3 linked regions of the Homo sapiens genome follow. The protein of the gene in region 1 purifies or fractionates together with the protein of each later gene. This does not show direct contact. Each region holds a gene or a part of one and is shown in the gene's direction. Other genes may lie near its edges.

Evidence for each region.
Region 2: the proteins of SAMTOR (region 1) and OGA purify together in Homo sapiens (affinity purification with mass spectrometry; 2 studies listed by BioGRID and IntAct, with this or other methods). This does not show direct contact.
Region 3: the proteins of SAMTOR (region 1) and TGFBRAP1 purify together in Homo sapiens (affinity purification with mass spectrometry; 2 studies listed by BioGRID and IntAct, with this or other methods). This does not show direct contact.

Annotation. Positions count from the first base shown.
Region 1 is NC_000007.14:112,908,725-112,912,376, reverse strand, and holds part of SAMTOR (S-adenosylmethionine sensor upstream of mTORC1), read left to right. Parts: intron 1-3,652. UniProt on the Homo sapiens protein: S-adenosyl-L-methionine-binding protein that acts as an inhibitor of mTORC1 signaling via interaction with the GATOR1 and KICSTOR complexes.
Region 2 is NC_000010.11:101,808,325-101,811,976, reverse strand, and holds part of OGA (protein O-GlcNAcase), read left to right. Parts: intron 1-1,662; coding exon 1,663-1,793; intron 1,794-3,652.
Region 3 is NC_000002.12:105,305,735-105,309,386, reverse strand, and holds part of TGFBRAP1 (transforming growth factor-beta receptor-associated protein 1), read left to right. Parts: intron 1-1,068; 5' UTR 1,069-1,085; coding exon 1,086-1,773; intron 1,774-3,652. UniProt on the Homo sapiens protein: Plays a role in the TGF-beta/activin signaling pathway. It associates with inactive heteromeric TGF-beta and activin receptor complexes, mainly through the type II receptor, and is released upon activation of signaling.

The DNA of each region.
Region 1 (3,652 bases):
GTAATATGAATCATTAAAAGCCAGAGAAAAAAATGCAATATACAGGTATAGCTATACCTTCAATAAAGGAATTTGCCTTTTTTAGCTCTTTAAATACAGAGAAATATATACTATAAACACACTATTTCCTGAACTATTTGAAGGTAAATTACAGATAACATTACATTTTATCCCTAAATCTATTAGCACACATCTCCTAAGAATTAGGAAATTTTTCTACATAACCACAACACCGTCATCATATTAAGACAGTTAACAGTAATCTAATTTTCTAAAATACTTAGTTCATAAGTTCAGATTTTTCTGTCTTCAAAATATATTTTAAAATTTATATATATATGTATTTTTTTCTAAATCCAATCAAGTCTCATACATTGCATTTGGTGGTTACAATTCTTTAGGTTCTTGGTTTTTTTGTTTGTTTGTTTCATAACATTGAGTTTTTAGACAAATGTCAGTTAATTTGTAGAATATCCCACATTCTGCATTTTGCAATTGTTGGTTCAAGCTGGTTAATAGTGTTGTTCAAGTATTCTATATATCTTTACTGATTTTTCTTTCTTGGCTTTTTTATCTATCATTAACCAGTAAAGATGTTTTTAAGATACCATTTTTCCCAGTTTTTCTATAATAGTTACTTGGCTTTTTAGAGATTTAATTTTTCTGTTGAAGTTCTCTGTTTTTGTCCATTTGGGTTGTCTTTTTCTCTATTTTAAAAAAATAAATTTAAAATAGTTATTTTAAAGTTTTTGTCTGCTTATTCTAACATGTCTTATCTGTGGGTCTGTTTCTTTTGGCTATTTTTTCTTTTGGTTATGGGTCATTTTTTCCTGCTTTATGTGTGATAATTCTGTTTTTATACTGGCATTGTGTTTAGAAGAGATTGGCATAAATACCCTTTTTCTCCAGAGAGACATGCTTTTTTTGCTCTGAAAGGCAGCTAGAATGAAAGACTGAACACTTTGATACCATCAGGAGTTGAGCTGTATTGGAGCTGGATGACCTCTTTAGGTGGTTTCAATTCACTTCTGGTCTCAAGTGCTTTGATAGTGAATGAATCCTGTTCTGTGAGTATTACAGGTGCAACTCTCTTGCAGGACATAAGCCTAATGTTTTTCTGCTTTTTAGTTCCACTCGCAGCCACCAGTGCTGTTGCTGCCTTCACATACTCATAAATAGACCTGTGGAGGGAATCAGGAGGAGAATGGGGAGAATTATCTCTACATTTGAGTTTCTTAAAGATATCAATCTGTCACACAGCCAAGCAGTTGTTAAAAGCTCTGCCATTTCCCTTTAATCCAGCAGAGTATTTCTACCCTGGAAGGCTTGATTCTCTGCAGCCCAGGTACCATTTCAGCAAATTCCCCAGTGCCTGTGATCCCTTCTCATTTTGGAAGGACTTGTGCTTGTCTGTAATTTATTTCCTTTAGACCCCTTTGCATTCTCATCTCTCATGATTTCTTTTTAATACGTTGTTTTTTAAATTGTATCATATGAGCTGTTCTGATAATCTGTATCCTAATTCCAAACTAGTTTTGTGTTCTACATGCAGGATTATCTGATTGTTTTCTCATGGTACCAATTATTTATTTCCTCAATCTCATTTATTTCCTGTAAACTGAAAGTTGGGTCTAAAGGATTGATTCAGGTCAGATATTTTTGCAAAAATATCTATTAGATGAAGCTTCATACATCATTTTGTGTCATATTAGTAGGTTTTTGTTGTGAGGTGTACCGCCATTAGAGATACTAAATGTTATCATTTGGTTAAGGTGGTATCTACTCAATCTTTCCATTGTAAACTTATGTTATCCCTTTATAATTAAGTAATATGTACAGTGATATTTTGGCTTGTGGATCAATCCTCTTTCCTAACAGTCTTTCAACAAACAGTTTTACTTCCATTTATTAAATAATATTTGGGGTTACAAAACAATTATTTTTAAAATTGTATTATTTCTTGACATTTATTAGCTGGCATTCTTTTGTAAATAAAAGAATTTTCCTTTATAAATGGTGAATGATGATTACATGTTATCCAGAAAATCAGATTAAAAAATATGTAATTCTGTTTAATTACCAATTTTCACGAAAGCAATTGGTATAATAGTCAATTACAGTTAGGACAACGGGGTTGTGGGGTTTATTTTTTTGGACTGTCACAGTAACATCTTGGATTTTTATTTATTCCATTTTTCATTATTAGTCTTTTTTTGGGGGGTGGGGTGTTCAAATAATTTCATATTAGGCAGCAGGAGCCCAGTCAAAGTTTACTTCTGTGTTTTACGTCACCTGTGAGCACTTTCTTGCTCTGTAGTACAAAGATGAGTCTTTGCTTCCCCTCGTCGAGACCTGGCATCAGACTGTTTCTTCAGGGAGTCCTAGTTTCATTTAGTGGGAAATGGCATTTGAAAAGTAACATGTGGATACTAGATGTGCACAGGGTGTGCTTTATTCTGCATCTTTTTGGTAAAGAGAATTAGAAAAATATATAATATAATATTATATAGTGTTATATATAAATATTCAATCAAATTCCTAATTGATATTTTCCACTCCAGTTTAATATTATAAGATTTTTGCTTAACAACTTTGTTTTATATTTATATTTATTTTTGCTTAACTTATCTGTTTTTTATTTCTCTTCTGTTACACCGAAGGACTTGGTTCTGAATTACATTAATACATTAGCCTTTTCCTACAATTTACATAAAATGATTTAAAAATTGCAATACTGATTTTCTAAAAATAAAATAACTGAAATGTAAGATTTCTTTGCAGTTCTTTTGTCTTTAGAACATATCCCACCAAGGATCAGAATATATGCTTAAAAGTTGCTTGAAACAGTTATTTTCTGTATGGTTGTAATACCAATTTGCTATACAGTTGATTTCACTTAATTTTCAGTTTGGGGCGTTTTTTATTGTTATTTTAATTTTGGAGAATATAAAACATTTACATGGTTCAAAAGTCAAACCTTATAAAAAGATATACTCAAAAAAGACTCCCTTTTATTTTCTTCATTTACACCTGCCTCTGTTACCAACAAAGCTGGTTTCCCAAAAGATGGGGTCTTTCCCTGTTCATTGTCACAAAACCAGTACACAAAACCAGAAGTGAGTATCAAGCAGTGCAGGCTTTATTTGATGGCCATGGAATTGAGAAGCAGGAGCATGGCTCATAATTCAACTTCTCCACTAGTGATAGGCTGGGGGGTTAAAATATAGGGTTTTCTAATGAAGGCATTGGACATTAAAAGCAAGAGGATTAATATTCATGTCTTTTCTAGAAATGGGCAGTGAACTTTCTAGAACTGGAGTGCCACCATCCTTTTTGTCCTTTTATGGCTTCTTGCAGTTGTTACGGTCATTTGCCAACTGTCATGGAACTGGTGGGAGTACCATTTCATTTAGCATGGAAATGAGATTATAATGAAACGTGAGGTCTTTTCATTATGTCAGCTATCTTGGTTCTAACCAGTCTCACCCGGTCTCGTTATTTCAAAGGGAACTTTTTATTACAGGTATCCTGTTTCTTAAAGGTAAGCAGAGTTGGGGCAGGATCAGAATTCAACTGTCATATAGGCATTACACCGGGTAACACCTCCTATGGGTAACCATTTTCATTTGTTTTGTTTTTATCCTACCAGTGT
Region 2 (3,652 bases), on another chromosome or scaffold:
TGTGCCTTCAACTTAATTACTTTCTGGTGGTGCTGGTAATGAAACTTAATGTGATCAATAATCAAAATAGAGTAAAAATGACTATCTTGAGATACTACTGAAAATTATTCAAAAATATGTCTTATAGTATATACTAGTAGTAGTTAAGTTGATTTAGGAAAATTGTCAATTGATAATTTTAAAAGGTTAAAATCTATAATTAATGTTTTTCCCATAGATAGAAACAGGTCAAGATTGTTAAGGCCATGACTTAACTCTGGTTCTTTTTCTTTTTCTTTTTTTGGAGACAGCGTTTGTCACTTTGTTACCCAGGCTGGAGTGCAGTGACTCACTGCAATTTTGATCTCCCCGGCTCAAGCAATCCTCCCGCCTCAGTCCCCCAAGTAGCTGGGACTACAAGCGCGGGTCACCACACCCAGCTAATTTTTGTATATTTTGTAGAGAGAGGGGTTTGCCATGTTGCCTGTGCTGGTCTCAAACTCCTGAACTCAAGCAGTCAACTTGCCGTGGCCTCTCAAAGTGCTGGGATTACAGGTGTGATTCATTTTTTTTTTTTTTTTTTTTTTTTTTCATTTTTTTTCATTTTTTGAGATGGAGTCTTGCTGTGTCGTCCAGACTGGGGTGCAGTGGTGCGATCTTGGCTCACTGCAACCTCTGCCTCCAGGGTTCAAGCAATTCTCCTGCCTCAGCCTCCCTAGTAGTTGGGATTACAAGTATGCGCCACCACGCCTGGCTAATTTTTGTATTTTTAGTAGAGATGGGGTTTCACAATGTTGACCAGGCTGGTCTCAAACTCCTGACCTCAGGCAGTCCTCCTGCCTGGCCTCCCAAAGTCCTGGGGTTACAGGCATGAGCCATTGGGCCTGGCCTACCCTGATTCTTAAGAAAGCATTTTCTTTCTTTCATATTATAAAGTAGTTATGTGTAGGTTTATTTAGTTAGGAATTCCAGCTGTTCAGAGATGGCAAAACAAAAAAAAAAAGCAAGATCCAGTACCATGGCTCATGCCTGCAATCCCAACACTGTAAGAGGCTAAGGCAGGCGGATCACTTGAGGCCAGGAGTTCGAGACCAGCCTGGGCAATATGGCAAAACCCTCATCTCTACTAAACAAAAATTAGCCGGGTATGCCTGTAATCCCACCTACTCAGGAGGTGGAGGTTGCAGTGAGTCAGGATCGTGCCACTGCACTCCAGCCTTGGGCAACAGAGCAAGGCTCTCAAAATAAAAAAGCAGCGGCTGCATTTTATGCCTTTCAAATGCTGCAGGAAATAGAAATGGCTTAAGTTCAGTAAGAGAATTGACAATTCAGTGTTTTTGAGAAGTGGCAATGAAAGGGAGGAAAATGTTTATTGATTTTAGCCTGTTTCCCCAAAAGGATAAGAAACTATTTGGAAGTGAAAAAGAAGGGCCTCTTATTTTCTGTTGGTTCAGATTTCAAAGGTGTGAAAACTATTCTTTTTCCCTTACTGTGACATTAAATCACTTCAGGCTTGTACCATTTTGTATGGCCTGTTGTTAAGTTGGACATGACAATTTGTAAAATGTGAGGATCTTTTCCTTTCTTGTAAGTTAGAAGAAATAACCTCTTCAGTTAAACCTTCAGTGAAGGTTCTTTTAGTTTTCTGTTCTGCTTTCTAAAAACATAGACTCTGTTCTTTAGAGCAACTTATGACTCTCATCTCTGCTGCACGAGAATATGAGATAGAGTTCATCTATGCGATCTCACCTGGATTGGATATCACTTTTTCTAACCCCAAGGAAGTATCCACATTGAAACGTAAATTGGACCAGGTAACTCCTTACTTTTTATTCATTTTTCCTGACTATGTACTTGAAACTAGAAGTTTACTCAGTTGCTTTTACGATGTTAAAAGGAAATCAAATTCCTATTTCTTTGTTTTCTTTTTTTGTTTGTTTGTTTTGTTTTTTGAGACAGAGTCTTGCTCTGTCGCCCAGACTGGAGTGCAGTGGCACAATCTCGGCTCACTGCAACCTCCTCCGCCTCCCGGGTTCAAGTGATTCTCCTGCCTCAGCTTCCCGAGTAGCTGGGACTATAGGTGCGTGCCATCATGCCTGGCTAATTTTTGTATTTTTAGTAGAGACAGGGCCTTCACCATGCCAGCCAGGCTGGTCTCGAACTGCTCACCTCATGATCTTCCCAAAGTGCTGGGATTACAGGTGTGAGTCACCATGCCTGGTTTTTTATTTCTTTGTTTCTATAAGAATTTTTTTTACTTTGAATGCTTTTTTTTTCTTTTTTTTTTTTTTTGAGACAGAGTCTTGCCCTGTTGCCTGGAGTGCAGTGGCCCAATCTCGGCTCACTGCAACCTCCACCTCCCAAGTTCAAGCGATTCTCATGCCTCAGCCTCCTGAGTAGCTGTTACAGGCACACCACCATGCCTGGCTAATTTTTATATTTTTAGTAGAGACAGGGTTTTGCCACGTTGGCCAGGCTGGTCTCGAACTCCTGACTTTAGGTGATTCACCCACTTCAGCCTCCCAGAGTGCCGGGATTACAGTCGTGCGCCAGTGCACCCAGCCTTGAATCCTTCTGATAGAGGAATATTTTCCAAATTAAGTAAAAAGAGCTTTACTGGAGGTACTAGTTCTTCTCAAATTTCAGTTTGCATAAGAACTGCCTTAAAAGAATGATTAGAAGTGAAGCTTGGAAGAATGCTGACTGCTGGACTTTATTTCCCAAATGGATAAGGTGGGGACCGGGAATCTAGGTGATTGGTGGTCAAGAACCACATTTTGAGAAATTATATATACCCTAGGCTGCTTGGCTTGAATTTACACCTGAGATTACAGAAACAGGGTTTTACCTATTAGACATTAGTTTCTTCAATTATATGGACGAAGAGATGTCTGGAAATGGCTAGTTTCCCAAGATGAGAAGAAAAACAGACTAGGTGAACCTAATTGAGTGTAAAGTCTGCTTAATGTAAAAGCTGCAGACTTCCTTTGGTCCAATGTAGGGGGCTTCCATTTTCCTTTTTTTTTTTGAAACTGAGTCTTGCTCTGTCGCCCAGGCTGGAGTGCAGTGGCGCGATCTCAGCTCATTGCAACCTCTACCTCCTGGGTTCAAGCAATTCTCTGGCCTCAGCCTCCTGAGTAACGGGGATTACAGGCATGTGCTACCACACCTGGCTAATTTTTTTGTATTTTTAGTAGAGATGGGGTTTCACCATGTTTGCCAGGCTGGTCTCGAACTCCTAACCTCATGGTTTGCCCGCCTCGGCCTCCCAAAGTGCTGGGATTACAAGTGTGAGCCACTGCGCCCGGCCCCATTTTTCTGTTATTTTAGTTTGCTGGTTTTTCTATATACATGTCTTATTTCTTTAGGCAAAGATTTATATGGGTGGCATTAAAATGTCTGGTAAAAAATTTAAGGCAGTTGAAATTTTCATGAATGAAGTTATTTTACTATTTGATAAAATTCTATTCTTTCTGATTCATACCTGGTTAGGTTTATCTGCAAAGGGATCAGTGTGCCTTTTGGGACTAGGACACAGCCTGGCTTTTTCATGTCTTAAGGTTACTTACTCATGTTTCTGTATTTTTCTGACTTTGTTGGGTCTTCTACAATCAGCAGCAGCCCATGAGGACTAGGAGGCTAGGCCACTTTGTTGGATCATATTGTCATATAA
Region 3 (3,652 bases), on another chromosome or scaffold:
AGTGACAGTGATAGCAGCCTTTCACTTCAAGCTCTCTGAACATGCAGCAGTGCTGACGCAAGCCCAGCCAGCTGCCCTGCAGCTCCCGTCATTCTCTGCAGTCCTCTTTCCAGCTCTCTGATCCCCTGCCCTGCTCCCGCTCACAGGGACTGTGCCTTTGAGTTTGCTTCTGGCTGCCTGAGAAGTCAGAAAGGCCACCTTGCCTGATCTTCTCCCTGTGACTTTGTGGAGTGTGAAGCCACAGTTCTCTGCAGAAGATGAAGTAGGAGGCGACGGGCTAGTGTGTGGGAAAGTCTCACTTCCAATGGGAGCCAGGGACCGGTCGGTCCACACATCCACTAAATAGCTCCACTCACCATCTGAAAGCCTTTCGAGATCCGAGGCACACCTTTACTCTCCACATGAATACATTTACTCCGGAGCTGAGGCTGATGCGCCTGCCTTATTGGGAAGAACACAAAGGAATCCAAGGCCTGGCGTCTGCCTCGGTGTTCCTGGCAGGATCCTGTGACTGTGGTTGTGTTCATTGACTAAAGTGCATATTCAAGTAGCTGTAGAAACTCAGGGAAGATCAGTGAGGATCATTTCTGCCTTTTTCAGAAATCCTTTTTGTTTTTTTTTTTAAATGGGGTCTCATTATATTGCCCAGGCTGGCCTCCAGCTCCTGGGGTCAAGCCATCCTCCTGCCTCACAGAAATCCTTTTGTTATGTTGCCCGTGGGTGAATGCATGCATTTGTCTTCTGCCTTCAAGCGTGTCTCCCAGGAGCAATGTGAGGAGGCTCCAGGTGACTCTGTGTGGGGACTGAGCAGGATGGCACGTGATCACAAGCACATACATATGTGTATATGGGTGTGTGTGTGTGTATGTGTCTGTGGTTTTCTTCTTGGGTCTTCTGCTGTCTGATGGGGGAGGTCTGTGGGGAAATGGTTTCTTTCCATTTTTTGATAGCGTGGAATGACTTTCTTTAATGAAAATGACAACTAGGGAATCCACGTATCATTATTGCAGCCTCTGTTTCTGCTTCTTCCTTGTTCCTCTAAAATTAGTTTTCCTCTTTCTCTTCCAGCAGATCAGCCAGTAGACATGATGAGCATCAAAGCCTTTACGCTTGTCTCTGCTGTGGAGCGGGAGCTGCTGATGGGCGACAAGGAGCGCGTCAACATAGAGTGCGTGGAGTGCTGCGGCAGGGACCTCTACGTGGGCACCAACGACTGCTTCGTCTACCACTTCCTGTTGGAGGAGAGGCCAGTGCCTGCTGGGCCAGCCACGTTCACTGCCACCAAACAGCTGCAGAGACACTTGGGCTTCAAGAAGCCCGTGAACGAGCTGCGTGCGGCCTCAGCACTCAACAGGCTGCTGGTGCTGTGTGACAACTCCATCAGCCTGGTCAACATGCTGAACCTCGAGCCAGTGCCTTCGGGGGCCCGCATCAAGGGGGCAGCCACGTTTGCACTGAACGAGAACCCTGTGAGTGGGGACCCCTTCTGTGTAGAAGTTTGCATCATCTCTGTCAAACGCAGAACCATCCAGATGTTTCTGGTGTACGAGGACCGGGTGCAGATCGTCAAGGAGGTGTCGACTGCCGAGCAGCCCCTCGCTGTGGCTGTGGACGGCCACTTCCTGTGTCTGGCTCTGACCACTCAGTACATCATCCACAATTACAGCACAGGCGTCTCCCAGGACCTGTTTCCCTACTGCAGTGAGGAGAGGCCGCCGATCGTCAAGAGGATAGGGAGACAGGAGTTCCTGCTGGCGGGCCCCGGAGGGCTGGGTGAGGAGGATGCATTTGTGCGCCTGATCTTTTTGGGTGGCCTCGGTGACTGCGTGTTGAAACTGGAGAGTGAGATTGGCGCTGTGCAGAATAAATCCTCAGTGACATTGGGCGTGTGTGGCAAGACAGAGGTAGCAGTGCTTGACCAGTGCTTGATGAAATCCAGTTCGATTGTTCTGTGAACGTGGGGTTGGAGTCATAAAACCAGTTTCTTTCACATTAAAGTGGAGCTTGAAGACAGCTCTGGTGGTGTTACCGGGAAGTGGGGATATTCTCAGCCCTTAGTCATCTTGGGAGAAAGATTTTGGCCAAGAGACAATTCAGAGATAGCAGAGAGCTTTCTGAAGGGAAATAGAGAACAGAGAATTTATATGGAGAGAGACAGTACGTTCTGAAAGATGAGGCAGAGTGGGATGCTGAGAGAGTGAGCCAGCAGCCCTGAGAGTTCTGCATCGGGTTTTTATGATGCTGGAGTTTTTCTTGAAGTTCCCACCTCTGTCTTAAAGTTTCTGCCTTTTTCCTTTGTCTAGTTTTCCCGCTTCTGCCTTAAGTCCCCACCTTTTCCTCCCACCTAATTTCTACTCTAAGCTTGTGGGACCCTCTCTTACTAGTAGTTGGTGCACATGTACAGCCGGTGTTGGATGTGAATCCCACCTAATGGCTGCATTGCTCATTACCTCCACCCCAGGAAGGTTGTACAGCGGTTAGGTCCATACTTACTGCACCTGAATGTCTCTTTGGAATTTCTCCTTTACCCTCTTTCCCTCCTCTCTGCTCATATCTAGCATGCATGTTTTGTTTGTTTGTTTTGTTTTGAGACAGAGTCTCGCTTTATTGCCCAGGCTGGAGTGCAGTGGCACAGTATCGGCTCACTGCAACCTCTACCTCCCAGGTTCAAGCGATTCTCCCTGCCTCAACCTTCCAAATAGCTGAGATTTCAGGCATGCACCACCATGCCTGGCTAATTTTTGTATTTTTGGTAGAGATGGGGTTTCACCATGTTGGCCAGGTTGGTCTTGAACTCCTGACCTCAAGGGATCCACCCACCTCGGCCTCCCAAAGTGCTGGGATTACAAGCATCAGCCACCATGCCTGGCCAGCATGCATCTTTTTGATGGTCTCTGGGATGTGGGATTTTCCAGACCTCCCTTTTCTCAGGGGCTCTTCCCTCCCATTCATGTCTAGCTAGCTATCTACCCACTCTTAACAGTGGGAAAATTCTTTTAAGTAAATAACTACAAAAATAACTCTGGGCTGGGCGCAGTGGCTCACGCCTATAATCCCAGCACTTTGGGAGGCCAAAGCAGGTGGATCACCTGTGGTGGGGAGTTCGAGACCATCCTGACCAACATGGAGAAACCCTGTCTCTACTAAAAATACAAAATTAGCCGGGCATGGTGGTGCATGCCTGTAATCCCAGCTACTCAGGAAGCTGAGGCAGGAGAATTGCTTGAACCCAGGAGGCAGCAGTTGCGGTGAGCTGAGATCACGCCATTGCACTCCAGCCTGGGCAGCAAGAGGGAAACTGTCTCAAAAAAAAAAAAACAAAAAACAAAAAACAAAAAACCAGAAAACTCCGTAAGGGTTCCTGGTAAGATTTTCCCACAAGAGTGGGTTGTCATTTGATTGTTTTTGCTCCTCATTCTAAAAAGTTGTTGAGGCTGGGCTAGGTGGCTCACGCCTGTAATCCCAGCACTTTGGGATGCCGAAGCAGGCAGATCACCTGAGGTCAGTAGTTCGAGACCAGCCTGGCCAAAAGGTGAAACCCTATCTCTACTAAAAATACAAAAATTAGCCTGGTGTGGTGGTGGGCACCTGTAATCCCAGCTACTCAGGAGGCTGAGGCAGGAGAATCACTTGGGCGGAGGTTACAGTGAGC